4 linked regions of the Homo sapiens genome follow. The protein of the gene in region 3 interacts with the protein of the main gene of each other region in a pairwise test. Each region holds a gene or a part of one and is shown on either strand. Other genes may lie near its edges. The genes, in order: GRIPAP1, WDR6, GRIP1 and DEPDC1B.

Region 1 (7,029 bases), on a different chromosome or scaffold from region 3:
TGTTTCACACCTGTAATCCTAGCACTTTGGGAGGCCAAGGTGGGCAGATCGCCTGAGGTCAGGAGTTCAAGACCAGCCTGGCCAACATGGCAAAACCCCATTTCTATTAAAAATACAATAATTAGCCAGGTTTGATGGCAAATGCCTGTAATTCCAGCTACTTGGGAGGCTGAGGCAGGAGAATCACTTGAACCTGGGAGGCAGAGGTTGCAGTGAGCCGAGATCACACCACTGTACTCCAGCCTGGGTGACAGAGAAAGACTCAGTCTCAAGAAAATAAACAAATAAATAAATAATAAAATAAAATTAACTGGGCATGGTGTGCACTTGTAGTCCCAGCTACTTGGGAGGATCGCTTGAGCCCAGGAGTTTGAGGTTGCAGTGAGCTATGATTGCACCACTGCACACCAGCCTGGGCAACAGAGCAAGACTGTCTAGGGAAAAAGATTTTTTTGAGACGGAGTCTCACTCTGTCACCCAGGCTGGAGTGCAATGGCTCGATCGCGGCTCACTGCAACCTCTGCCTCCTGGGTTCAAGCGATTCTCCTGCCTCAGCCCCACGAGTAGCTGGGATTACAAGCGCGTGCGCCACCACGCCCAGCTAATTTTTGTATTTTTAGTAGAGACGGGGTTTCACCATATTGGTCAGGCTGGTCTTGAACTCCTGACCTCATGATCCACCTGCCTTGGCCTCCCAAAGTGCTGGGATACAGGCGTGAGCCACCGTGCCCAGCCACGGAAAAAGATTTTTGGGGGAGGCTGAGGTGGGAGGATTGCTTGAGCTCAGGAGTTCAAGACCAGTCTGGGCAATGTAGCGAGACCTTGTCTCTACAAAAAAATCAAAAAATTAGCCCGGCATGATGGCACACACCTCTGATCCCAGCTACTTGGGAGAGTGAGGTGGGAGAATCACTTGAGCCCAGGAGGTCAAGGTTGCAGTGAACTGTGATCATTCCAGTGCACTCCAGCCTGGGTGACAGAGCAAGTCCCTGTCTCAAAAAAAAAAAGAAAAAAATGTGAGAGGCATGGATAGAGCTGAACCTTCGTCTTTTAGGCATGTGGTCATTTGGCACAGGGACTCTGCCACCTGAGGGGTTGAAGGCCAGTTCTCCCTCTATTCGAGGCATGGCAAGGGACTTCAGAGACCACCTCATCCATCATATATCCCTGTTCTACTCACCAGCCCTGCAGGAACGCTATGGGAAAGAAGCCGGGAAGTTCTCAGCTGTCAGTGAGGGCCAGGGGGATCCCCCAGGGGGCCTGGCCCCCACCGTCCTGGCCCCCATGCCGTTGGCAGAGGTGGAGCTGAAATGGGAAATGGAGAAAGAGGAGAAGAGATTGCTCTGGGAACAGCTGCAAGGCTTAGAGGTGAATCTGAGTCTGTTGGAGCTGGAATGCCAGAAGGCAGGGCAGATGTTCTACCTCTGTCTATAGTCCCACGGAGATGGCTGTGACATCACCATCTTGTGGGCTGATGGGGTGAGGGAGGCAGGAGGGCAGGGGAAGGCTTCTCCTTGTCCTTGCTAACAACAACCCTCCCATCCCTCATCCTTCCCTGCAGAGCTCAAAGCAGGCCGAAACATCCAGGCTGCAGGAGGAACTTGCTAAGGTGCGGCTGCTTGGCTCTTTCCCATTCTGCTCCCAATCTGCTGGATTCTTTCCCATTCCATTCCCAATCCTAGGGCAGAAGGGGCATTGTACCCCATCAAAGCCTAGGTTTCATCATCTGTGAAATGGAGAGACTCACACCTATGTCTCAGAGTTACTTTCAGTATGGAATGAGTTAATGTGGTCCCACTATATCTTGTGCATGATAAGTTTCATCCCATCCATCTCTCAGCTTTGCCCATTCACTCATTCATTCATTCATGCAAGCATTTACAGACTCCTGGCTCTTATCTTAGGACCTGGAGACCCAGGGGTGCGGCACCCAGTCATGATATCCTGCTTTCCAGGCCTCCCAGCCTAGCCAATCTATAACATGGCCATTGGCCACTATGTTGGGAGCATAAATACCGGGCTTTGGAACCTGAAGGATCTGGGTGGAGATAATATTGTTGTTGCTGACCCGCTGAGCAACCAAATTACTTAACCTTTCCAAGACTCTGTTTCCCCATTTGTAAAACTGGTACTACTCACTTGTCAGGGCTATTTTGAGGATTCCACAAGACAACATAAGTAAATCCTGGCTTCCAAAAATGACTTAATAAGAAGTGTCTATATTTATTAATTTTAGGTTTGTCTTTATATTATTCTCAATGTTATCACTTGTCTGTACCTCTCTCCCCAGCTCTCCGAGAAACTGAAAAAGAAACAAGAAAGGTAAATTTCTTTTTCCCAAGGGTACTGGGGGCCGAGGGGGGAATTAACTTACGGAACTGACCCATCTACATCTGTCCTTCTGTGCCCAGTTTTTGCCGTCTGCAGACAGAAAAGGAGACTCTGTTTAATGACAGCAGGTAACTGCCAGATTTGCGGGTATTGGTGGACAATTGGGACAGTGCCCAGTGAAGATTACAGGGGCAGAGCTAGGAGACTGGGCCTCAAGCCATGTCCAACACACCCCCTCCCCATCACTCCTAGGAACAAGATTGAGGAATTACAACAACGGAAGGAAGCTGATCACAAAGCCCAGTTGGCTCGAACCCAGAAGCTGCAGCAGGAACTTGAGGCTGCCAATCAGGTGATGGGGACTGGGTTCTGAGATCCCTGGGGTAGGGGCCAGGACTGGGAGCCTGGAGAGGTCTGAGGTCCATGGAGGCTGGCTGGGGAGTCTGAGATTTCCTGTGTTGGAAATGGGTTCTGGGGCCCCCCAGGAGCTAGGAAAATGGGAATTGGAGAGCCCTAGGAATTGTTATAGGAGTCTTCATGAGTGTAAGATCTCAGGGGGCTAAGGACTTAGGGGGCTGTGTGCTATAAGTTTGTGTAAATCTGAAACTCCTGGAGGTTTGAGACCACAGTCTGGATGAATCTGTGGTCACTAGGGCCTAGGACCAGGAACTGGGGTAAGTCTGAACTCCCTGGGTGCTGGGTGACTTTGAAATCTTTAGGGGCTGGGATGTCAGTAAATTTGGGACTCCCAAGGGCTGAGGACATGGCTGGGTAGATATACAACTTTCAAGGGTGAGATAGTTGGGGCTGAAGGCTGAGTGCATTTGAGATCCTCAGGATCTGGGCGCTGGCTTGGGCCTAAGACACCTAGGAAGTGGGATCATATGGGCTAGGTAGTCCTGAGATCCTTGAGGGCTGTGAACAAAAAGCTGGTCAGTCTGAGACCTCCAGGGGCTGGAGCAGAAGTTTAGGTGGGTCTGAGGCTCCTGAGGACTGGGGGCTGGATGGTTCTGAAGCCTCTGGGTTTCCTTCTAGAAAAGGTGAGTCTGAGGTCCCTTGGAATGGAGGATATGGTGGCTTGTGGTTCTGAAGTCCCTAGAAACTGGGAACATGGGGTCTGAGACGGGAGTCTGGGTAAAGCTGAGACCCCCAGGAACTGGTGGTTAACTGGGTCTGAAGATTCCAAGAGACTGGGGAGCAGAGTGACAGGTGAAGGGGTCAGTCTGAGAGTTCACCAGGACCTGGAAACTAGGAGGTTGTGAGTTTGAGACCTCTAGGATCTGGGACTATGAGTTTGGGTGGATCTCACCTGGGAAGTAGGGACGTGGGAGATGAGTGTGTCTGAAACCCCTGGTGGTTGGGATTGGGAGGCTGGGTGAAACTGTCATCCTTGGGTGCTGACTACATCTGAGATCCATGGGGCTGACTGTGTCTGAGAATCCTGGAGCTCCCAAGCTAGAATCTGGGTGAGCATGAGACTTCTTATGGATGGGAGCTGAGTGAGTTTGAACCGCGTAGCAGCTAGGGCCAGGAGTCTAGTCGTGCCTGAGATCTTGTACGCTGGGATAGAGGGGTTGACTGTGTCTGAGGCCCCTGAGGGTAGTGACCTGGCGTCTGGGTGAACCTGAGATTGCTGTTGGCTGGATAGTCTGAGACCCACAGGTGCTGAGAACATGCTGCTGGGTGGTCAAACAGAGAGTCTGTACGGTTATATGCACCCCAGGAGAGGCTGAGGTGTAAAATGGGCTCCCCTGGTCTCCACAGAGCTTGGCAGAGCTGAGAGATCAGCGGCAGGGGGAGCGCCTGGAACATGCAGCAGCTTTGCGGGCCCTACAAGATCAGGTATATTGTACTGCGTGGGCTCAGGGAGCTGGGGTTCAGGATGGGGGCAGCCTGAGTGGGTACTACATAGTCAGGCAAGGTCCCAGGGATCCTGCTTCCCCCAGGCCTTCGTGTGTGTGTGTGTGTGTGTGTGTGTGTGTGTGTGTGTGTGTGTGTGTGTGTGTGTCCTTTCTTTCTTGGTCGTGGGTAGGTCCTGTCCCCCTGTTCTGGACCCACTCTCACCTGCTGTGGACGTGGGGCCAGGTATCCATCCAGAGTGCAGATGCACAGGAACAAGTGGAAGGGCTTTTGGCTGAGAACAATGCCTTGAGGACTAGCCTGGCTGCCCTGGAGCAGGTAAAGAACACCTGGGGGCCCTTGCTGATCCCTCTCCAGTTCCCCCATCTCCATCTGCTTCTGGTCCACATCAGGGTAGGGTGGTCTGGACCCCATGCTGTTCTCCTGTCTTTGTTTCTGTTGCTCCTTTCTGTTGGCGTCCAGCCCTCTTCTCTCTGGCCATCCATCCCTACTTTTTTTTTTTTTTAACTTTTAAAAATTTTATTGGGGAGGCTGAGGCAGGAGAATTGCTTGAACCAGGACCCAGGAGGCAGAGGTTTCAGTGAGCCGAGATCGCACCACTGTACTCCAGCCTGGGCGACAGAGCAATACTCTGTCTCAAAAAAAAAAAAAAAAAAAAAAGGGCGTGGTGGCTCATGCCTGTAATCCTAGCACTTTGGGAGGCCAAAGATGTGTGGATGGCCTGAGCTCAGTTCAAGACCAGCCTGGGCAACACGGTGAAACCCCATCTCTACTAAAATACAAAAAATTAGCTGGGTGTGGCGGTGTGTGCCTGTAATCCCAGCTACTCGGGAGGCTGAGACAGGAGAATCTCTTGAACCCAGGAGGCGGAGGTTGCAGTAAGCCGAGATCGTGCCATTGCACTCCAGCCTGGGCAACAGAGCGAGACTCCGTCTAAAAAAAAAAAAAAAAAAAAAGCCGGGCATGGTGGCTCAATTCTGTAATCCTAGCACTTTGGGAGGCCGAGGAGGGCGGATCACCTGAGGTCAGGAGTTCGAGACCAGCCTGACCAACATAGAGAAACCCCGTCTCTACTAAAAATACAAAATTAGCTGGGTGTGGTGGTGGGCACCTGTAATCCAAGCTACTCGGGAGGCTGAGGTGGGAGAATTGCTTGAGCCCAGGAGGTGGAGTGTGCGGTGAGCCGAGATCGTGCCATTGCACTCAAGCCTGGGCAACAAGAGTGAAACTCTGTCTCAAAAAAACAAAAAACAAAACGAAAAAAAACTTATTGGCCGGGCATGATGGCTCACACCTGTAATCCCAGCACTTTGGGAGGCAGAGGTGGGCGGATCACCTGACATCAGGAGTTTGAGACCAGCCTAGCCAACATGGCAAAACCTTGTCTCTACTAAAAATACAAAAATTAGGCCAGGCGCAGTGGCTCACGCCTATAATCCCAGCACTTTGGAAGGCTGAGACGGGCGGATCACCTGGGGTTCGGAGTTCGAGACCAGCCTGGCCAATATGGTGAAACCCCGTCTCTACTAAAAATACAAAAAAAAATAGCTGGGCATGGTGGCGCACACCTGTAATCCCAGCTACTCGGGAGGCTGAGGCAGGAGAATTGCTTGAACCTGGGAGGTGGAGGTTATAGTGAGCCGAGATTGTGCCACTGCACCCCAGCCTGGGTGACAGAGTGAGACTCCATCTCAAAAAAGAGAAAACAAAATTATTTTGTAGAGACAGGGTCTCACTATGTTACCCAGACTGGCTTAAACTTCTGGCCTCAAGCTATCTTCCCACCTCGGCCTTCCAAAGTGCTGGGATTATAGGTGTGAGCCACTGTGCTTGGCCTATCTCTGCTTTTTTTTTTTTTTGTAGACGGAGTTTCGGTCTTGTTGTCCAGGCTGGAGTGCTATGGCACGATCTCGGCTCACTGCAACCTCCGCCTCCCAGGTTCAAGCGATTCTCCTGCCTCAGCCCTCCCAAATAGCTGGGACTACAGCCGTGTGCCACCATGCCCAGCTAATTTTTGTATTTTTAGTAGAGACGGGGTTTCACCATCTTGGCCAGGCTGGTCTCGAACTCCTGACCTCATGATCCACCCGCCTCGGCCTCCCAGAGTGCTGGGATTACAGGCATGAGCCACCGCGCCCGGCTTCTGCTTTTCTTTGTTTCTAGTTTCTCTCTAGTAAAGTGCATGAAATGTACTAATCTTAAGTGTACACTCAGTGAATCCTCTCTTCGTCTCTCTCTTTTTTTTCTCTCTCTCTCCCCGCCACCATAGCCACCACCCAGATCAAAGTATAAAGCACTTTTAGTACCCCAGAAGGTCCCCTTTACCCCTTCAAAGTCAGTACTCCCCCAGAAGTAACCATTATTCTGATCTCTAGCAACATAAGATTCATTTCGCTTGTTCTTTAACTTCATATAAATGGAATCAGCTGCTCTTTGTCTCTGACTTCTTTCTGGCAGCACTATGTAAGTTTATCCACGTGGCAGCACAGATCTGTTCTCTTACTGTTGTGTGGTATTCCATTGTATGAACATACCACATTTACCCATTCTCTTCATTGTTTTTCTGTTTGAAATTTCCTCTCTCTTCCTGGTTCTCTTCCCACCTCCCTCCCTGTTTCCCTGGAACTAGGGGGCTCATACCCTGTCCCTGGCCCCTGGGGTCCCTTTCACTCTACTTCTCATCACCACTACTTTCTCCAGATCCAAACAGCAAAGACCCAAGAACTGAATATGCTCCGGGAACAGACCACTGGGCTGGCAGCTGAGTTGCAGCAGCAGCAGGCTGAGTACGAGGACCTTATGGGACAGAAAGATGACCTCAACTCCCAGCTCCAGGTA
Region 2 (6,090 bases), on a different chromosome or scaffold from region 3:
AGAGTGAGACTTTGTCTCAAAAAAAAAAAAGAGTGACTGATGAGGGGGCCGGGCACAATGGCTCACGCCTGTAATCCCGGCACTTTGGGAGGCCAAGGTGGGTGGATCACCGCAGGTCAGGAGTTCGAGACCAGCGTGGCCAACATGGTGAAACCCTGTCTCTACTAAAAATATAAAAACTGGTCGGGCTTGGTGGCTCACGCCTATAATCCCAGCACTTTGGGAGGCTGAGGCGGGCAGATCACGAGGTCAGGAGATCGAGATCATCCTGGCTAACACGGTGAAACCCTGTCTCTATTAAAAATACAAAAAATTAGCCGGGCATGGGGGCAGGCCCCTGTAGTCCCAGCTACTCGGGAGGCTGAGGCAGGAGAATGGCCTGAACCCGGGAGGTGGAACTTGCAGTGAGCTGAGATCGTGCCACTGCACTCCAGCCTGGGCTACAGAGCAAGACTCCGTCTCAAAAAAAAAAAAAAAAAACTAGCCAGGTGTGGTGGTGGGCGCCTGTAATTCCAGCTACTTGGGAGGCTGAGGCAGGAGAGTTGCTTGAACCCAGGAGATGGAGGTTGCAGTGAGCTGCACGGTGCCACTGCACTCCAGCCTCAGCGACAGAATGAGACTCTGTCTCAAAAAAAAAAAGAATGACTGATGAGGGAAGCACAAAGTCAGCACTGAAAGTCCAGCTGAAGCTGAGACCAAGGATTTTCTTTTTTCTTTTTTTTTTTTTGAGTCTTTCGCCCAGGCTGGAGTGAAGTGGTATGATCTTGGCTCACTGCAACCTCCACCCGCTGGGTTCAAGCGATTCTCCTGCCTCAGCCTCCTGAGTAGCTGGGATTACAGGCACGTGCCACCACACCTGGCTAATTTTTTAGTAGAGATGGGGTTTTCACCTTGTTGGCCAGGCTAGTCCTGAACCCCTGACCTCAGGTGATTCATCCGCCTGGGCTTCCCAAAGTGCTAGGATTACAGGCGTGAGCCACCGTGCCTGGCCGAGACCAAGGATTTTCTTTTTTTTTTTTTTCTTTTGAGACAGAGTCTGGCTTTGGCTTTCCAAAGTGCCCAGATTACAGGCGTGAGCCACCGCACCCGGCCGAGACCAAGGATTTTCTAAGATTCAAGCTGCAGGATTGTGTGTCCTGATGCATTCATAGGCTACATGCCGAGAAGTTTCCCTGATCCCCATCTCTTCCCTGTGGGTCATCAGAGTTAGGTACCTAGCTCTGACATGGCTCTTTGCCTCTATCTAGGTGAGGGTCCCGATGTCCTGGTGTACAGCTTGGACTTTGGTGGGCATCTGCGGATGATAAAGCGAGTGCAGAACCTGCTTGGCCACTATCTTATCCATGGCTTCCGGGTACGGCCAGAGCCTAATGGAGACCTTGACTTGGAGGCCATGGTGGCTGTGTTTGGAAGCAAGGGACTCCGAGTTGTGAAAATTAGCTGGGGACAGGGCCACTTCTGGGAGCTTTGGCGCTCTGGCCTGTGGAACATGTCTGACTGGATTTGGGATGCACGCTGGCTTGAGGGAAATATAGCCTTGGCCCTGGGCCACAACTCAGTGGTGCTATATGACCCTGTAGTAGGGTGCATCCTGCAAGAGGTGCCCTGCACAGACAGGTGCACCCTCTCTTCAGCCTGCCTGATTGGAGACGCCTGGAAGGAGCTGACCATAGTGGCAGGTGCTGTTTCCAACCAGCTCTTGGTCTGGTACCCAGCAACTGCCTTAGCAGACAACAAACCTGTAGCACCTGACCGACGAATCAGTGGGCATGTGGGCATCATCTTCAGCATGTCATACCTGGAAAGCAAGGGATTGCTGGCTACAGCTTCAGAAGACCGAAGCGTTCGTATCTGGAAGGTGGGCGACCTGCGAGTGCCTGGGGGTCGGGTGCAGAATATTGGGCACTGCTTTGGGCACAGCGCCCGTGTGTGGCAGGTCAAGCTTCTAGAGAATTACCTTATCAGTGCAGGAGAGGATTGTGTCTGCTTGGTGTGGAGCCATGAAGGTGAGATCCTCCAGGCCTTTCGGGGACACCAGGGACGTGGGATCCGGGCCATAGCTGCCCATGAGAGGCAGGCCTGGGTGATCACTGGGGGTGATGACTCAGGCATTCGGCTGTGGCACTTGGTAGGGCGTGGGTACCGGGGATTGGGGGTCTCGGCTCTCTGCTTCAAGTCCCGTAGTAGGCCAGGTACACTCAAGGCTGTGACTCTGGCTGGCTCTTGGCGACTGCTGGCAGTGACTGATACAGGGGCCCTGTATCTCTATGACGTCGAGGTCAAGTGCTGGGAGCAGCTGCTAGAGGATAAACATTTCCAGTCCTACTGCCTGCTGGAGGCAGCTCCTGGTCCCGAGGGCTTCGGATTGTGTGCTATGGCCAATGGGGAAGGTCGTGTCAAGGTTGTCCCCATCAACACTCCAACTGCTGCTGTGGACCAGACCCTGTTTCCTGGGAAGGTGCACAGCTTGAGCTGGGCCCTGCGTGGTTATGAGGAGCTCCTGTTGCTGGCATCGGGCCCTGGCGGGGTAGTAGCTTGCCTAGAGATCTCAGCCGCACCCTCTGGCAAGGCCATCTTTGTCAAGGAACGTTGTCGGTACCTGCTGCCCCCAAGCAAGCAGAGATGGCACACATGCAGTGCCTTCCTACCCCCAGGTGACTTCCTGGTGTGTGGTGACCGCCGGGGCTCTGTGCTGCTATTCCCCTCCAGACCAGGTCTGCTCAAGGACCCTGGGGTGGGAGGCAAGGCTCGGGCTGGTGCTGGGGCACCTGTAGTGGGTAGTGGTAGTAGTGGGGGTGGGAATGCTTTCACTGGGTTGGGCCCAGTGTCTACCCTGCCCTCTCTGCACGGGAAGCAGGGTGTGACCTCAGTCACATGCCATGGTGGCTATGTGTATACCACAGGGCGTGATGGAGCCTACTACCAGCTGTTTGTACGAGACGGCCAGCTCCAGCCAGTCCTAAGGCAGAAGTCCTGTCGAGGCATGAACTGGCTAGCTGGGCTCCGTATAGTGCCCGATGGGAGCATGGTTATCCTGGGTTTCCATGCCAATGAGTTTGTGGTGTGGAACCCTCGGTCACACGAGAAGCTGCACATCGTCAACTGTGGTGGAGGGCACCGTTCGTGGGCATTCTCTGATACTGAGGCGGCCATGGCCTTTGCTTACCTCAAGGATGGGGATGTCATGCTGTACAGGGCTCTGGGTGGCTGCACCCGGCCACACGTGATTCTCCGGGAGGGTCTGCATGGCCGTGAGATCACTTGTGTAAAGCGTGTGGGCACCATTACCCTGGGGCCTGAATATGGAGTGCCCAGCTTCATGCAGCCTGATGACCTGGAGCCTGGCAGTGAGGGGCCCGACTTGACTGACATTGTGATCACATGTAGTGAGGACACTACTGTCTGTGTCCTAGCACTCCCTACAACCACAGGCTCAGCCCACGCACTCACAGCTGTTTGTAACCATATCTCCTCGGTACGTGCTGTGGCTGTGTGGGGCATTGGCACCCCAGGTGGCCCTCAGGATCCTCAGCCAGGCCTGACTGCCCATGTGGTGTCTGCGGGGGGGCGGGCTGAGATGCACTGCTTCAGCATCATGGTTACTCCGGACCCCAGCACCCCAAGCCGCCTCGCCTGCCATGTCATGCACCTTTCGTCCCACCGGCTAGATGAGTATTGGGACCGGCAACGCAATCGGCATCGGATGGTTAAGGTAGACCCAGAGACCAGGTAATATATGCTCCTGGGCAGGGTGTGGTATGGGTCATGCAGATGCTCCCAGGCTTGCAGGCTCCACCTGACAGCTGCATGTTGTCTCTGCAGGTACATGTCCCTTGCTGTGTGTGAACTTGACCAGCCCGGCCTTGGCCCCCTTGTGGCTGCAGCCTGTAGTGATGGGGCCGTAAGGTGAGAGCATAGGGCCCAGTGGGACAGGAGACAAAGGAAGTAAGGTTGTCTAGGATGCGTTCTGAGCTGGGCCACCCCCCGCCCCCCAGGCTCTTTCTTTTGCAGGATTCTGGGCGGATTCTGCAGCTCCTTGCTGAAACCTTCCACCATAAGCGATGTGTCCTCAAGGTCCACTCCTTTACACACGAGGCACCCAACCAGAGGCGGTGAGAGGGGCTGGATGATGGTCCTGCATGGGCTGGGTTGGGGGGTTCCTGTTGAGCTTCATCTCTGTTATTGACCAGGCTGTCTTTTCCTGGCTCTCAGGAGGCTCCTCCTGTGCAGCGCAGCTACTGATGGCAGCCTGGCTTTCTGGGATCTCACCACCATGCTAGACCATGACTCCACTGTCCTGGAGCCTCCAGTGGATCCTGGGCTTCCCTACCGTGAGTAGCTAATGTGCAACCATGGCTACCCCTCCTCACCTGTCACATAGCCCTCACACATGTGGCAGGCGGGGCCCTGACAACTACCCTCTTCCTCTTCCTTCAGGGCTTGGCACCCCCTCCCTGACTCTCCAGGCCCACAGCTGTGGTATCAACAGCCTGCACACCTTGCCCACCCGTGAGGGCCACCATCTCGTGGCCAGTGGCAGTGAAGATGGATCCCTCCATGTCTTCGTGCTTGCTGTGGAGATGCTACAGCTAGAAGAGGCTGTGGGAGAGGCTGGGCTGGTACCCCAGCTGCGTGTGCTAGAGGAATACTCTGTCCCCTGTGCACATGCTGCCCATGTGACAGGCCTCAAGATCCTAAGCCCAAGCATCATGGTCTCAGCCTCCATTGATCAACGGCTGACCTTCTGGCGTCTGGGGCATGGTGAACCCACCTTCATGAATAGCACTGTGTTCCATGTGCCTGATGTGGCTGACATGGACTGCTGGCCTGTGAGCCCTGAGTTTGGCCACCGTTGTGCCCTTGGGGGTCAGGGGCTTGAGGTTTACAACTGGTATGACTGAGGTATCCTGCGGTGGCTGGCGTGCTGGGCATGGGGCCTGCTCACAGACAGCATGGAGCAGGGATGGGCTGTCTGTGCCCATGCTCAGCATGCCTTGAGGGGAGGAGGTGGTGGCCGTGGGTTCCTGATGTCGGTGCAGGAGCTGAAGGTGAGTGGAGTGCTGCCAAGAATATGCCCGACTCCCCATGACAAGACAGAACTTTGTAACAAACAGTACCAATTTATTTTGGCCGTGGGTTTTTGCTTTTTTTCCAGTTGATGACTTTGTGAACATTCCCAGGTATTGGAGCCTCTGTGGCCTTAAATGTGGCTCAGTGGAGGGAGACCCAGCATAGCCAGGCCAGTATGGAGCACCTCACGCACAGCTCTCAGAAGCTGCAGGCGGACGAACATCTGACCAAAGAGGTGTGGTCGAGGCTCCTGAAAGAGAAAGGGCCTGCTGGTCTCATCCTCTGCTTCCTTTGCCTTTACCCTATACCTCTCTGCACGTCCCACCCCATTTTGCTGTGTGCTCACCCCCAGGATGTGTACCCGGTTGTAGTAGGAGCTGAAATCCATGCTGAGCTGTACCAGGAACTTGCATATCTAGAGACAGAGACTGAGTCACTGGCCCATCTCTTTGCTCTTGTGCCCCAGGCCAGAATAAAGAATAGAGTGTAGAGTGTCCTGGTTGTCTATGCCTCACCATCTCTGTGCGTACAGCAATGTGGAGCCCCGGGGCTGTGCAGTCCAGCACTGCTGTCCGGCTCAGCAGATCCGGAAAGGGGAGGATACTGTTGAAGAGCAACAACCACTCACCCTGTTGGGGAGAAAGGTGCTGGGAGGGGAAGTCCAGGCCTCCTTGTGCCAGCTACCAGGAGGGACACTCACCTCATCATGTAGCAGTGAGAAGTCCAGACTGCTCACAGGAGGAAAAGTGGGGTACAGACCTTGTTCCATACTACACTTGTAACTCTCAAAGAGTGTGGCAAGACGGGCACAATTATACATGACAAAGGTGCCACTCTTTGTGCCCTTCGTGGAGATACTGCTGTCAGCCAGAGCCAGGAAGAGCTGGGGAATAGAAGCACAGCTGCAGAGAGAGAAGGCAGCCACCACACCCTGTGCCCCAACACTGGCCCTGTCAGGCTCCCAGGCTCACCTGACTCTGTGGGGCTGTGCTCAGCATCTCAAACTTGATGGTGGCCACA
Region 3 (7,029 bases):
ACTCCAAGCCCAAAACAAATGTGTGGGATTGGTTAAGCCCGGAGATCTTTAAAAATTGACATCATTTGGCCAGGCATGGTGGCTCACACCTGTAATCCCAGCACTTTGGGAGGCCAAGGTGGGCAGATCACTTGGGGTCAGGAGTTTGAGACCAGCCGGGCCAAAATACAACAAATTAGCCAGGTGTGGTGATGGGTGCCTGTAATCCCAGCTACTCGGGAGGCTGAGGCAAGAGAATCACTTGAACCCAGGAGGCGGAGGCTGCAGTGAGCTGAGATCGTGCCACTGCACTGCAGCCTGGGTGACAGAGTGAGACTCTGTCTCAATAAATAAATAAATAAATAAATAAATATTAACATTATCCATTCGACAGATACTTATTGGGCATTTTCTTTGTACCAAATACTTTGTACTTGCCAGTGACATAATGGTAAGTAAAGCATGGATACTAATTTTCAAGGAATTCATAGTCTGATGGTTGTATACAGATAAACAAAGAATTATCATCAAATGTAGAAAGCATAATGAAAGCCATCTATACAGGTTTATGAATACACAGAGCAGGAGTACCTATTCAGTGGTGTGCTGGTAAATGTTTAACAAGTGGCTTTGTCGGGGCATGCCTTGATTTATAGCATCCATCAATGTCTCTGGTGTAAATACTCCCACTATGGCCAATTTCAGTCTACCAACTTGATGTCATTGAATGTGGAGTTGCTAAGAGATGTGTGGCACACCATTATAGAGTAGCTCTCCCACATAGATAGAGTAGACTTCAAGAGCACAGAACATAAAATGTAGTAATGATTAGAAAATGATGAATTGTTAGTATTCATTACCTCCGTTTTTAATATCATTTAATTGCAAATTTATATAATTTTAAATGATTGTGTTTACAAGCTAGTTCAAAAAATTCTTTAACATTTAACAATTGGCTCCATAGAAGATGACTTTAACCAATGAAGTCTACTCTTCATTGTGGGCTAGGGCAACAGACTTTCTGCACCATACAAATGAGGGTGAACTCCTTTGCATGAGTAGCTATGTCCATTAGCATTGAAAGAAGACAAGTAACAGAAGAGAAGAGGGAGCAATGAGAAGAGCTGAGATGCTCAGAACATTGCACCGCATACAACCAAAGCAGAAAACTTTATAACCCTGCCTTTCAACTATTTTCTCCATATAATAACCTTCCGCATAAGGGGAGAAGAAAGGGAGAGATCAGTTAGCCCTTAGGTCCCTAAATAGTAAGGACAAAAAATCACATGAAAATTACAATATTCATTTCCATCCCCATGGAACATTCCTTCCAGTCTATGCTGATGTGGACTGCCAAGGAGGGCAGACTTGAAGACTTAACAAAATGATCCACTGGAAATCCTACGTTAGCAGTGGCGCTCATAACTTCATACAGGACTGCAGGCTCAGATTTGCAGGGGTGTTCACACAGTTCTGTGGAATGAGAGCAACTCAGGAGTGGACTCAGCAAATGGTTGAGTCAACTGTCATTTTTAAACTATGTCTTCAAAACTCTCACCAAAATGTATACACACAAATGCGTTATAACCTGTATCAGGCCTCTTTTGATTGCAAATAACAGAAAGACCTGGCTCTAATGGGCTTAGGTGTTAAAGACATTTAATGGCTAACTTAACTGAAGAAGTCTAAGGGAGAGCTCAGAGCTCCCTTAAGGTAGTTCTTGAGCAGGGGCTGAAGTGATGACAGTCAGATATGGTGTCTCTTTCTTTTGGATCCACTGCCATTTTCAGACAGGCTCTGCCCTCAAAGTCACAGGAAGGCTATAGCAGTTTCATAGCCCTTATATCTGCTCAGCTTCTCCCTTCTAGCAGCTGAGTAAAATTCCTGGGCTTGTCTCTGGCTGAAACATATCTAGTAGCATCTCTATGAAGCTGCCAGTACGTTAGGTCCATGGCTCCCAAACTCAGCTAACACAGTAAAGTCACCTGGGGAATGTGTTAAAATGCCAAAGAACAGGCCACACTTCCAGGCAATTAAATCACAATCTCTGGGGTTGGATCCAGGCAACATTATTTTCTTAAGGTTACAAGGTAATTCCAATGGAGAGAAAAATTTAGAAACCCCTGAATTGGGTGCTCATAAAAATAGGAGATTTTAGACTCATCTTCTGATTTACTAAGAAAGTCAAGTTTGATTAATTTCCTTAATGTCCACCTCAAAGTCTTTCTTCCTATGCTTTCCTGTCTCTGTGACAAGAGTGTCCCTCTTGCTCACTCTAGCTGGCTGCCATCTGTCTCGTGGTCTCACACTCACACTGTCTTGCCTGGTTCTAGAGTTCATCCCTCTTCTAGTTTGCATCTTGAAATTTTACCTCCCTACTGGTTCTATCCTTTTAAAAAATGCTCAGATTTCTCCCATCCTATAATAGCCTTCCTTATCCCCCATGACCCCGCCCTCCACCCCCACAGGCTGCTGCCCATCTACAGCCTAACTTTCACCTTCAGACTTCTTAAAAGAGTGGTCTGCCCTTGTTGCCTTTAATGCAGAGAATCCTTATAATCTGGTTTGGACATCAATACCCTGTGAAAACTGTTCTCTCAAAGGTCAGCAATGACCCACTTACAAAACAGAAGGGCTGCTTCTCGCCTCTCCTTCTCTCATCTTTGCTTTGGTTTTTAGATATTACGGTATCCAAACGCTATTTCTCCCACTGTTTTTCTCTCTGCCACCTCTATTAGCTTAAGAAAGCCTTGGGGAAAATGTGTGGGACGTGTATCCTAAACACATTTCTCAGACAATATGTATCAGAAGACTTGAAAGTGAAGATACATGAAGGCAACAATTTAAAGCACAAAATAAATTCTTTAAAGACAATTCAGTATCATGTATTAGACTGAAAACTGGGAAACAAACTAAAGATATATTATCCACATAAGGAAATACTACAGAGACAGTAACAGTTTCCTATGACAAGTGTGTGCTAATGTGCACAAATGGGCAGAATATTAGGAAGAAGATGTAAGACAAAACATGTATTATACATATAATTTCAACTTATTAAAAAGCATAATAATTTGTAAATCAATTTGTTTTCCTCCATTGGTTTCCATTATTATGATGACAACATATCTTTAGTGATATTTAGTTTTACCTTTTCTCCTAATTCATCTGTTTTGAAAATGAATAGAAATTTCCTTAGTACAAATGTAACTTATTGTATTCTTCATATATTCAGCTATTTAATAATGTAGTTGGAATTATTAGTAAGAAGCTCTTTCTCACTTTCTAATACCCCGAGCTTTGCCTGAATTTAGGTGGTCATCATTGACTGAGACATCCAAGACCACTGCTTTTATTGCTTTTTGTAATGGCAAGGTCAAAGTTTCCTTGGTTTGAAGGGTGCAGTAACATCCTTTAAGGAGCTACATGTAATAAATATCTGGGTGCATTTTTTTTTTGGATATATGCGATACTGAAACAAATAATTATTTTAAAAATCTGCAAATAAGATTTTCTTCTGTATATTTAATAAAGCAGCAGTTACTAATTTTAAATTTAACATAATTCTCATGTATATGGGCAAAAAAGTGGTAAGAAACTAAAAGAGAGAAAAAGATGAGTTTCAAACACTGACGGCTTGCCTATCCCTAGAAACTATGTATTTTGCCTCCTCTCAAATAGTGGGAAGTTATCAAATTATATATTTTCCGCCAGAATAAAGTGAATTTACTAATATAAGAATTTCAAATAAATCAACTGTAGTAGAAAATTAAATCATTTTGTTATAGCTAACATGAGTATAAAACAGTTTTCACAAGTAATTTTTAATTTACAGATTAAGAAACTGAAATTTAGTGGGGGAAATTCAGTTTTTTTGTTTGTTTGTTTTTGCCACACAAGTAAAAATAGGAAAGCTAGGAAAGGTTGACATATCTTCTAATTTCTAAGTCTATTCTATTTCCCCTACCATAAGGAATGCTGAGAGATTAGTGTGGTGTTGTCTTGATTAATTTCTCTTTATTATTCTAGATAGGCAGGTCTATGGTTTCTATCCGTTTCTAGAAGAGAAAAAAAATGGCAAAAATGAAACACTGGGGTTCCTCCTGTCCTCCACTTGTGATCTTAGGAATGATTCTTAACTTCTCTGAACCTCTTCTTTTTCATCTGTATGGTGGGGATAATGACGATAATATTGCAAGATTTAAATGAGTTAGTACATGTAAAATGTTTAGAATAGTACCTGGCAGAAAGTAAGTGCTCAATAAATGTTAGCTATCCTTATTTCCATTCTTCCTCCTAAACATTTCCCAAAAGTATATAAGTTAATCGATTAGAATGCCTATCCTACATTGGCCCTCCTTTTCCCAGTAATGAACCAGATATTTCTTCCTAACCTGCTACAATCATATAAGAAGGGTGTAGACTCCTTCTTGTTTATATGGGGTCATACAAGGCATAGCCAAAATTTCCTCTGGAGGATGGGTACCTCCTGGAACGAGGTAAAGTATTTCTAGCATCCAATTCCCATTTGGAAGACAGGGGAGAAATAAATGCGCCATTATGATAATTCTAACTAGTTATATAAACGAAAAGCTTCAGTCCAGTGGAGAGTAAAGCGGTCCAAGCCACTGTTCAATGTAAACTCCCTCAAAGCATGGGCTAGAAGCACAGCAAGAAATCCATCACAATCTGGACCACGAGCAGCACTTGCGCGAGAACAAGACCTGCCTGGGACCCAGCTGCAGCATTCTCCTGTTCAAGTGGGGTCTCTCTATTTGCAAGAGAAATATGCCCCATGCCCTAGCAATAGATGAAACTCCAATAAAACAAGACAGACTTACTTTGTGAAATATCTATTAAGTGCATATTATTTTAAAAAGTTGATAGGCTAGAAAGATAAATACGTTAAATGCACTAGCTTTGATGGCATGAAATGAAGGGGTGGAGGCAAAGCAGAAAGGACATGGTTGCAGGTGAGATTTGGAAAGGGGTGGAAAGTTAACGAGGTGGAGGATACAGTTAAGTTGTTCCAGATGGCAGGATCTGACAGAGAAGGCCAGCGAGGGTTAGCAGAATGGATGAGGATGGGGAGACAGGAGAAATGAGGTCCAGCACAGAGAGAGAGAGCATTCTCAACCCAGATGATGATCAGTTCTGAATCATATCACAGAGTGGATGAGGAATCATTAGAGAAGACTGCTGAAGGAACCACAAGGCTAGACACAGACAGATGGGAAAGAGCAAAGTGACCAGAACAGAAAATCCAAGGCCACCAGCAAAGGAGCCATCAGGTTTGGAACACTGATACTGAACTCTGTGATGGATTCAGAATTCCTTGGATTAAAAGATTCTGCAGATGAGAAAAGATGGGAAATATTTTTCCTCTTCCATTAAGACAAAACATTTAAATGTGTTTCTTTAATTAAGATTACACTTAGGAAATGAGTTTCTAAATAGAAGAACTTTTAAACACAGGATGAGTGTCAGAGTTTAAAGGGATTTAGACGTCACCTGAGTAATCCATTAAAAGTTTATCAGACAAACTGTGAGATTGTTCTTGTCAGAGAGAATTGAGAATAAGATTACTGGTTGTCTGAGATGGTTGAGTTTCAGTTCTCTCTGGAAACAAGTCCTAGACGAATGTCTGACCTTCCCTTTCAAGCATAATGATTCCATGATTGGGGTAAGTGTAAGGAACAATGACTGAAAAAATGAGAGTGAGTGTGATCACAACCCAGCCTTTTAATCTTGCTCAGTGCCAGTGGAGAGAGCAATACCCATACATGCCCAGACAGCAGAAAAGGAGAAAAGATACTGAGGTTGGGAGGAGAAATCAGGAAGAAGAGAGGGAGAGAGAAAGAAAGTAGAATGCACAGCAGGGAGCAGTTCCCTGCCAGCCACAGATGTCTCACTTAGACACCCCATTGGGATGAAGGTCAACGGGGCTGCTTATAGTTTGTTAGTGGGAAAGGGACAGGGAGAGTTAATTCTATTTTAGGCCATATGTGTATTTGGGAAGAGAGAGAAAGTGAAGATAAGTAGAAAATAAAATGACACGTAGGCCAGCTATGATGAAAAATGTTGAAGTCTATACTAAAGTGAAGGCAAAGGTTTCCGACATGAGCTTTGAGCCAGTAGAGAAAAGACAGAGAGAGAGGGTGGGTGGCAGCAAAACAATGAAAGGTGCCCAGAGCCGTGCTCCCTGTGGAATGTCAGTAAATATTAATTGGCTGATGTTGGCATTGGTAGGCAGAGTGAAGCTTGTGAAAGAAAAATGCCATTGCCAGTGGAGCACGAAAGTTCAGATCTCGGAGCTCAAAATGGCAGCACCTGAGCAAGCAGCAGAGTCACATCCCATATCACCAGAGAAAGTGATTCTCTGCATATGAGGCCAAACTGTCTCAAGGAAAAGTAATCACACAATCATGACAAGAGAAAAAGAACAAAGTCTGTGGGAGCCATGAAAATATCTCCCCTTCTCTGAGAACATACTCCCTTCCCCTGAGGTATGGTAGCCCCTAGCTGAGAAACCAGGGCTGTCCCAGGTAAACAGCTGTGAAGGTAGGTGCCAAGAAGCCTAGATTTACCCACTCCAGAAAACCCTTTTGTCAGATGTCTCTGGAAACCTCACAAAATGTTATTTTGGGATTTGGCTCTAAGGTTGGGTAATTGGTAGACTCTCATTCTGGAGGAAGAAAAGAACGGCATTGCTTCTTTAGATTTCAATATTAGATGGGAAACGGAATGCTTTTGACGGTGCTTGGTGTTTTCATGAACCAAAGTTCCTCTCATAATGGCAGGCATGGGCCTTTTGGGTAAAGGTTATTTTCTTGCTCTTGTTCTACATTGGTAGGTACCTGATAAGGCAAAATGATTGAAACAGTGGCTTGAAACATTAATAAGAAAATGACTCAATTCCCAAGTCAGAGAAGTGCTAAGTTTACCTGAAATATATTCTACTATAATACTGTGGATCAGTGTCTATGTGGAGTGATCCAAGGACTTGTCTAGAAATACATGTTTTATACATCTTTTAAAATTACATCTGAC
Region 4 (7,029 bases), on a different chromosome or scaffold from region 3:
GTGAGTGTTGAGGGTTATGATAGTGTTAGCCTGGCTGCTCCTGGTTCGGGAAAGAGTGCTATGAAAATTGAGATATATCTGTCTAGTGTATGGGAGGAGAAAATGGCTGTATTTGGTTCTATATATTTGTCATGCCTGGTTGATGGTTTGTATTTTCTATAGTGATTTGTGAGTGACAATGGATCTATATTCAATTGACCCAGTATAGTTGAATATGTGAAAATATTTTATGTAATTTTACTAATATATATTTTGTTAAAATACAACCATATAGAATCTACTAGGCTATAGGTGTTGAAAGATAACATTTTTTTTTTTCTAAATCAGGTTTGTTACAGAAGGAGAAAGTGGCAGTTGAAGCATTTCAGATTTGCTGCCTTCTCCTACCTCCTGAAAATAGGAGAAAGTTACAGCTATTGATGAGGATGATGGCAAGGATTTGCTTAAACAAAGAGATGCCACCCCTGTGTGATGGCTTTGGTACCCGAACACTGGTAGGTTGATTTTTAACATCAGGTATGACTTTTTGGAATGAAAGTCGACTGAGTAAGGTGTATTAGTTTGGGTGATCAGAGGGAAGTACAAAGCAGACTTGCTTAAAAGAGCCACAGTCAGTGTCCACCCAGACTTGTGTCGTGCTTTTGTTCTAAGTGTCTTAAAGAACATAATGAGAAATGGAGACTTGAGTAGGGGCAGACTCTGTAGAGAGATCTGCTACATCCTGTTCTCCCACTTAAAATTATTTTAAATTTATTCTTAATTGACAACTAATAATTGCATATGTGATGTTTTAATTCATGTATACATTATAGAGTCAATCAAGCTAATTAACAGATTCATTACCATACCAACTTATCATTTTTTTGTAATGAGATCATTAAAAATCTATTCTTTTCTCAATTTTGAAATATACAATATATTATTATAATTGTCGTCACCGTGCTGTGCACTAGAGCATTAAGACTTGATCCTCCTGTCTCACTGGATCTTTGTACCCTTTGACCAACATCTATTTCCATGTCCCTGTATCCCCCAGCCTGTGGTACCTACCATCTAATCTCTGCTTCTATTGGCATATGTTTTTAAAGAGAGTTTATTTTAGAATTTACTTACTAGCAAAATCTCTTGATTTTCCTCAAAAAATGTCTTTGAGCAAAACTGGTGCTTCAGTGGAATGTATGTGCTTTCCATATCCTGTTAAAACACCGTGTACTCCCTGGGGATTCACTGGCCCAGTTTTAGAAGTAATAGAGTGAGATCAGAGGAGCACTTAGTGCCCAGTAGGATTCTTGATCTCTATATTTTTTTGGAGTGAGTGGATGGTTAGAGAGGCTAATAGACCTTTTTGAAAAGCTGAAGAAAACTTTATATCTATTCTGCATATAAAATACACATGCAAAACTTTGCATGCAGTTTCAAGGCGATCACAGAGTCCCTGGGGTCCATGGTCTCCAGGCAAAAAATTCTCTGCCTGTGTGTCTCTCTGTACATGTAAATGTAAGTGAAGATCATTTGCAGTGTGTTAATGAAGTGTTACTAAGCAGAATTACATGATTTTTTGCTTAAAGATTTTGAAGGAAGATTGTCAGCGATAAAAGTAGTAGGAAAAAACAAAACAAAACAAAAGCCAGTCCAAAGAACAGTATTAAGAATGGAGTAGTTAGGCTGGGCGTGGTGGCTCACTCCTGTAATCCCAGCACTTTGGGAGGCCGAGGCAGGTGGATCACCTGAGGTCAGGAGTTCTAGACCAGCCTGACCAACATGGTGAAACCCCGTCTCTATTAAAATTACAAAAATTAGCTGGGCATGGTGGCAGGCGCCTGTAATCCCAGCTACTCGGGAGGCTGGGGCAGGAGAATTGCTTGAACCTGGGAGGCGGAGGTTACAGTGAGCCAAGATCACACCATTGCACTCCAGCATAGGTTACAGAGCGAGACTCCGTAAAAAAAAAAAAAAAAAAAAAAAGAATAGTTAATTTCAATTCTATGGAAATTATTACATTGATGCTATAATATATTTTGCATTTCTGCTTGCCTCAAAGAGAGTCTCATCACTTAATGTACTTCTTGAAAAGTCCCATGGCTTTGTTCAAAGATGATTGTCAAATATACATCGAAAATCCTAGAGAAAATAAGCTAACTAGGAAAAGATGTAATGGTTGAGGCATGTGGACTGTGTTAGCGGTTTAAAACAAATCAATAATGAAATTAGGATAAATAATAATTGACTAAATGGCTATAAAGTGCTTTGAACTTAGTAGTGCTACATGATTCAAGTCATGGTGATAATGATTTTCAAAATTTGTTTTCATATATTTATATGTGTGTATGTGTGTGTATATATATATATATATATATGTATATTTAAAATCGTGTAAAAGGAGGTTTAAAAATTGCTCAGATAAGCATCTCTCTGCAGTCTCTTAACAGGAAGATGCACATTTTGTTTGTTCTGGTTGTTGAGACCGTCAACCCATCTGAGATGGCTGGGTACTCTTGGTAGAATATGCACCCTGTGCCTTAGACCATTTCTCATATTTGCCTTTTGCAAATTAGATTGCACTCAGTTCAGAAAAATACTCATCTGCGTTTACCCCCCACCCCGCTCTTTTTTTAGATGGTTCAGACATTTTCCCGTTGCATCTTGTGTTCCAAGGATGAAGTGGACTTGGATGAGTTATTAGCTGCTAGATTGGTAACGTTTCTGATGGACAATTACCAGGAAATTCTGAAAGTCCCTTTGGCCTTGCAGACCTCTATAGAGGAGCGTGTGGCTCATCTACGAAGAGTCCAGGTAAAGGAGAGGATATTATCAGTTCTATGAAATTGGCAATATAAAGTCACGTAAGCTTGCTAGGCTTCTTGGGGCATTTTATTATGAGGATTAAGTGAATTAATGTTTATAAAGTACTTACAACAGGTCTTGGCACATAGTAATCCCCTGCATGTGTTTGTATTATCATTGAAAAGTTTACAGAATGCACATTTGGTTTTGTGTATCAATCCATGTGGCATATTTTTTATTGCTAATTCCTTGAATGAGTTTGTTTAGAATCTACATACACCTACTGATGGAAATGATTTTATGTGCAGTAAGTGTCTTGATTCATAATTGCCCTGTGACCTAGTTTAATATTCCCACTTTTTGCATGAAAAAGCTAAGGCACAAAGAACTTAAATAACTTCGCTTAAGGCCACAGAGCCAGAATTCTGACTGTTGCAGTCAGCCTCTGTAATCAGTGCTCTAAACTATCATTCCATATTGCCTGTCTAAAAATCATAGTACAGTAGAAGAACACTGGCATGAGAGCCATGAATCCCTGGCCAAATTCCTAGCTGTATCCTTTCTGTCGTGTGACTCTGGGCAAGTCCCTTAACCGCTTTGGATTTTACTTTCTTTCCTCAGGCGTTAAAATGGGCTATTCTTTCTTTATAAAGTTGTGAAGATTAGAACACTGTACTTTACAATTCCTAGGATGAATTTCTGACATATGTCAGGTATTCTTTGAAAGGTAGCTGCTGCTGTTGTCATGGTGGTTATATAAAAACAATGCAAAAGAAATATAATATATTATTATCGTGTGGACCCCAAAGTGGGGTTTGTATGTCAGCCTGTGGGAGCAGAAACCTGGTAAAGGCAGGCAGAAGGTCCACTTGACTCCTTCTGACTGATTGGACCTCTTCTCATTTGAGATCTTTTTGAGGCACCACAATCAAGGACCAGTGAACTGCCTCCTTCTGAGGTATTACAAAAATAATTAATTGTCCAGCTGTTTCTAGAAGGCAATTTTAAAATTAAAATTTTTTCTATTTTTTTGCAATTATCAACCTAACACATTGAAGAAACTTGGGAAATATAGAAAAAACACACCAAAAAGTATCAGAGTTACACTAAAATGTTCATAGTCAGTAATATAGTCTTTCAGATTTTTTTTTCTGTGTCTGTCTGCTGTCTATGTCCATGCCTACCTTACTTTCTTCCCTCTCTCTTCCCTCCCCACCCTCCCTTCCTTCCTTCCCTCCTTCCCACCTTCCCTGCTTCCTTCTTGCCTGCCTCCCTTCCTGCCTGCCTCCCTTCCTGCCACTTACATTCTGTTAACAATGAGAAAAAAATTCCCCCATCATTAAATATTGTTGATTGGCATGAGAATGGCCAAGAGCACAGACTCAGGAGCCTTTGAATTCATGACATGCCTTTTGTTAGCTGTGTCACCTTAGGCAAATTATATAACATGTCTGTGCTTCAACATCTGTCCCAACATTTCTTTTTCTCATCTGTAAAATGGGAATAATAGTAGTTAATATTTACCTCATAGAGTTTTTCTGGGGAATTAAAACATGTGATTAAAATACATGTGGGCTTAATACATGTGAAATGCTCACAATAATGTTTATCACATTGTAAACCTACAATTAGTAGCTGCCTTTGTTGTTGGTATCATCATTATTGTTATATTATTCCATAATAATATTATTGGCAACATAGTATTCCATAATATGGATATACCATAATTTATTTAAATGATACTTTTTGGTTGGTATTTAGATTGTTTTCATGCTTTCCCCCATTTTGGAAGCAATATAGCAGTAAATATTTTTAAAGGTAGATTTTTTTTGGCTAATCTGTGATTATTTTTTAAGAATAAACTCCTAGGGGCAGCATTGCTTGGCCAAAGGCCATGAACATATTTTAAGTATCTATAGCATATTGCCAAATTTAGAATGATCATTTCAATTTACATTTCTGTCAGTGGTATAAGAGAGTGTTCATTTCTTTGCCCCTTTGCCTACTTTGGATATTATCATTAACACTTGTATATATCTTTGCCACTTGCATGGGTGAAAAGTGTAATTTTAACTGCTGTTTTAGTTTAATTTTTTCCTCTGATATTTTTATGAGCCAACCCTAAAGAAAATAAAAATGAACAGAAATACTTCACCAAGTTTCTGCAAGGAAATGTTATAGCAGTGTATTAGTCTGCTCTCATGCTGCTAATAAAGACATACCCAAGACTGGGTAATTTGTAAAGGAAAGAGGTTTCATTGACTCAGAGTTCAGCATGGCTGGGGAGGCCCCAGGAAACTTACAATCATGGCAGAAGGGGAAGCAAACACATCCTTCATGAGGCAGCAGGAGAGAGAAGCACCGAGCAAAAGGGAGAAAAGCCCCTCATAAAACCATCAGATCTCATGAGAACTCACTCACTATCATAAGAACAGCATGGGGGGAACCACCCTGTGATTCAGTTACCTCCCATCTCCCACAGCAAGGGGATTATGGGAACTACATTTCAAGATGAGATTTGGGTGAGGACACAGCCAAACAATATCAAGCAATAACTGTGTTGCCCTGTATACTTGCTAGGTTTGTGTATTCACATGCATAGCACAGGCATATATTGTAGTAACTTAGCCTTGTGAGCCCTTTGCTATTACTTGAAGTTCAGAAGGCTGAGCTATGGTGATTAATTTAACTGCAGGTAAACATGATCTTGTTAAGAGACACTGCAGTGTGCTCTGAATAAAATCAGTAGTGATTCATTTGTCCAGTTACCTTTTCTCTCTTGCAAGTACATATTAGAATTGCCAAGCACCTGTTCCATTCAGCCCTCAGAACCTATAGATCTTTGTTCTTTTGATTAGGCTCCTAAGCCTCTACACTGTATCACATTTAGGGGAGTGCTTCTCTGAAAATGCAGTGTTGCTTGGATTATTCCAGTGATTGTTTTAGGACAGTTTCAGGGCTGACCCTGGGATACATTATTAGGTAGGCAATGTTTTTGACACAAGCCTTCTATGATCCTCATCTGCAACCTTCTATTTCAAAGGACTCCAGGCTCTGAAATTAAATATTTTTAATGTATGTTCATTTATTCACAGGCCTTGGTTTCCTTTTTCCTCTTATTTCTCTCTTCTCCCTTATCCCTTCTGCAATGTCTGCACCTTTGTTGTTTTACTTGATTCTCATGGGTAAGATGTTAGGAAATGATTGTAGTACCCCTCTCTTCCTAAAAGCTTAGCTAAATGCATGCCACTACCATCCCCAAGGCATTGAGAATCACACTCTTCAGATGTGGGAATGCGCCTGGATAGTTCCAGTGGATATCCAACATTATCAATGTTTTGAATCATTTTAGTCAATGTGTTTAATTTATGCTTGAATTTCAGATCTTGTTAAAAGAGGGAATGCCGAGACCAGCTCGGTCGTGGAGACCCTAACCCAGTGGCCCTAGAGGAATTAAAGACACACACACACACACACACAAATATAGAATGTGGAGTGGGAAATCAGGGGTCTTACAGCCTTCAGAGCTGAGAGCTTTGAACAGAGATTTACCCACATATTTATTGACAGCAAGCCAGTCATAAGATTTACTAAAAGTATTCCTTATGGGAAATAAAGGGGTGGGTGAAATAAAGGGAAGAGCTCTGGCTAGTTATCTGCAGCATGAACATGTCTTTAAGGCACAGATCGCTCATGCTATTGTTTGTGGTTTAAGAATGCCTTAAGCGGTTTTCCGCCCTGGGTGGGCCAGGTGTTCCTTGCCCTCATTCCTGTAAACGGACAACCTTCCAGCATGGGCATCAAGGCCATCACGAGCATGTCACAGTGCTGCAGAGATTTTGTTTATGGCCAGTTTTGGGGCCTGTTCCCAACGAGGGCACAAGCTTTTTTTGTTATTGAAATGGCTCTTGGGTTTACAAAGGTAAAAATCCAATTTAAAACCGTGGCTTTAAATAATAATATTTTGAAGTTATGGAAATACTTTTACTTTTCAATATAGAGTTTCCCCCAATCAAATTTTGAGGACTAACATGGCATTGCTACGGTACAAGGAGATATCCTGTATTTGATCTAAACTAATTCTTATAATTTATTTGAAAATATGCTATATTCTTTCACTACTAATCCTTTTGCCTCAGATAAAATACCCAGGAGCTGATATGGATATCACTTTATCTGCTCCATCATTTTGCCGTCAAATTAGTCCAGAGGAATTTGAATATCAAAGATCATATGGCTCTCAGG

The links.
Region 1: the proteins of GRIP1 (region 3) and GRIPAP1 interact in a two-hybrid assay, tested with the Homo sapiens proteins (one study listed by BioGRID).
Region 2: the proteins of GRIP1 (region 3) and WDR6 interact in binary tests that used the Homo sapiens proteins (3 or more experiments, as listed by UniProt).
Region 4: the proteins of GRIP1 (region 3) and DEPDC1B interact in a two-hybrid assay, tested with the Homo sapiens proteins (one study listed by BioGRID).

Annotation. Positions count from the first base shown.
Region 1 is NC_000023.11:48,985,265-48,992,293, reverse strand, and holds part of GRIPAP1 (GRIP1-associated protein 1), read left to right. Parts: intron 1-1,183; coding exon 1,184-1,368; intron 1,369-1,561; coding exon 1,562-1,609; intron 1,610-2,290; coding exon 2,291-2,322; intron 2,323-2,411; coding exon 2,412-2,459; intron 2,460-2,583; coding exon 2,584-2,683; intron 2,684-4,095; coding exon 4,096-4,173; intron 4,174-4,416; coding exon 4,417-4,509; intron 4,510-6,891; coding exon 6,892-7,026; intron 7,027-7,029. UniProt on the Homo sapiens protein: Regulates the endosomal recycling back to the neuronal plasma membrane, possibly by connecting early and late recycling endosomal domains and promoting segregation of recycling endosomes from early endosomal membranes.
Region 2 is NC_000003.12:49,010,388-49,016,477, forward strand, and holds the end of WDR6 (tRNA (34-2'-O)-methyltransferase regulator WDR6), read left to right. Parts: intron 1-1,033; exon of another isoform or gene 1,034-1,225; coding exon of another isoform or gene 1,226-1,247; coding exon 1,248-3,729; intron 3,730-3,822; coding exon 3,823-3,906; intron 3,907-3,995; coding exon 3,996-4,112; intron 4,113-4,190; coding exon of another isoform or gene 4,191-4,212; coding exon 4,213-4,331; intron 4,332-4,437; coding exon 4,438-4,901; 3' UTR 4,902-5,200; downstream 5,201-6,090. Other genes in the region: DALRD3 (DALR anticodon-binding domain-containing protein 3), read right to left, coding at 5,201-5,485, 5,586-5,699, 5,771-5,953, 6,042-6,090. UniProt on the Homo sapiens protein: Together with methyltransferase FTSJ1, methylates the 2'-O-ribose of nucleotides at position 34 of the tRNA anticodon loop of substrate tRNAs. Required for the correct positioning of the substrate tRNA for methylation.
Region 3 is NC_000012.12:66,669,064-66,676,092, forward strand, and holds part of GRIP1 (glutamate receptor-interacting protein 1), read right to left. Parts: intron 1-7,029. UniProt on the Homo sapiens protein: May play a role as a localized scaffold for the assembly of a multiprotein signaling complex and as mediator of the trafficking of its binding partners at specific subcellular location in neurons.
Region 4 is NC_000005.10:60,599,155-60,606,183, reverse strand, and holds part of DEPDC1B (DEP domain-containing protein 1B), read left to right. Parts: intron 1-327; coding exon 328-494; intron 495-2,616; coding exon 2,617-2,793; intron 2,794-6,923; coding exon 6,924-7,029.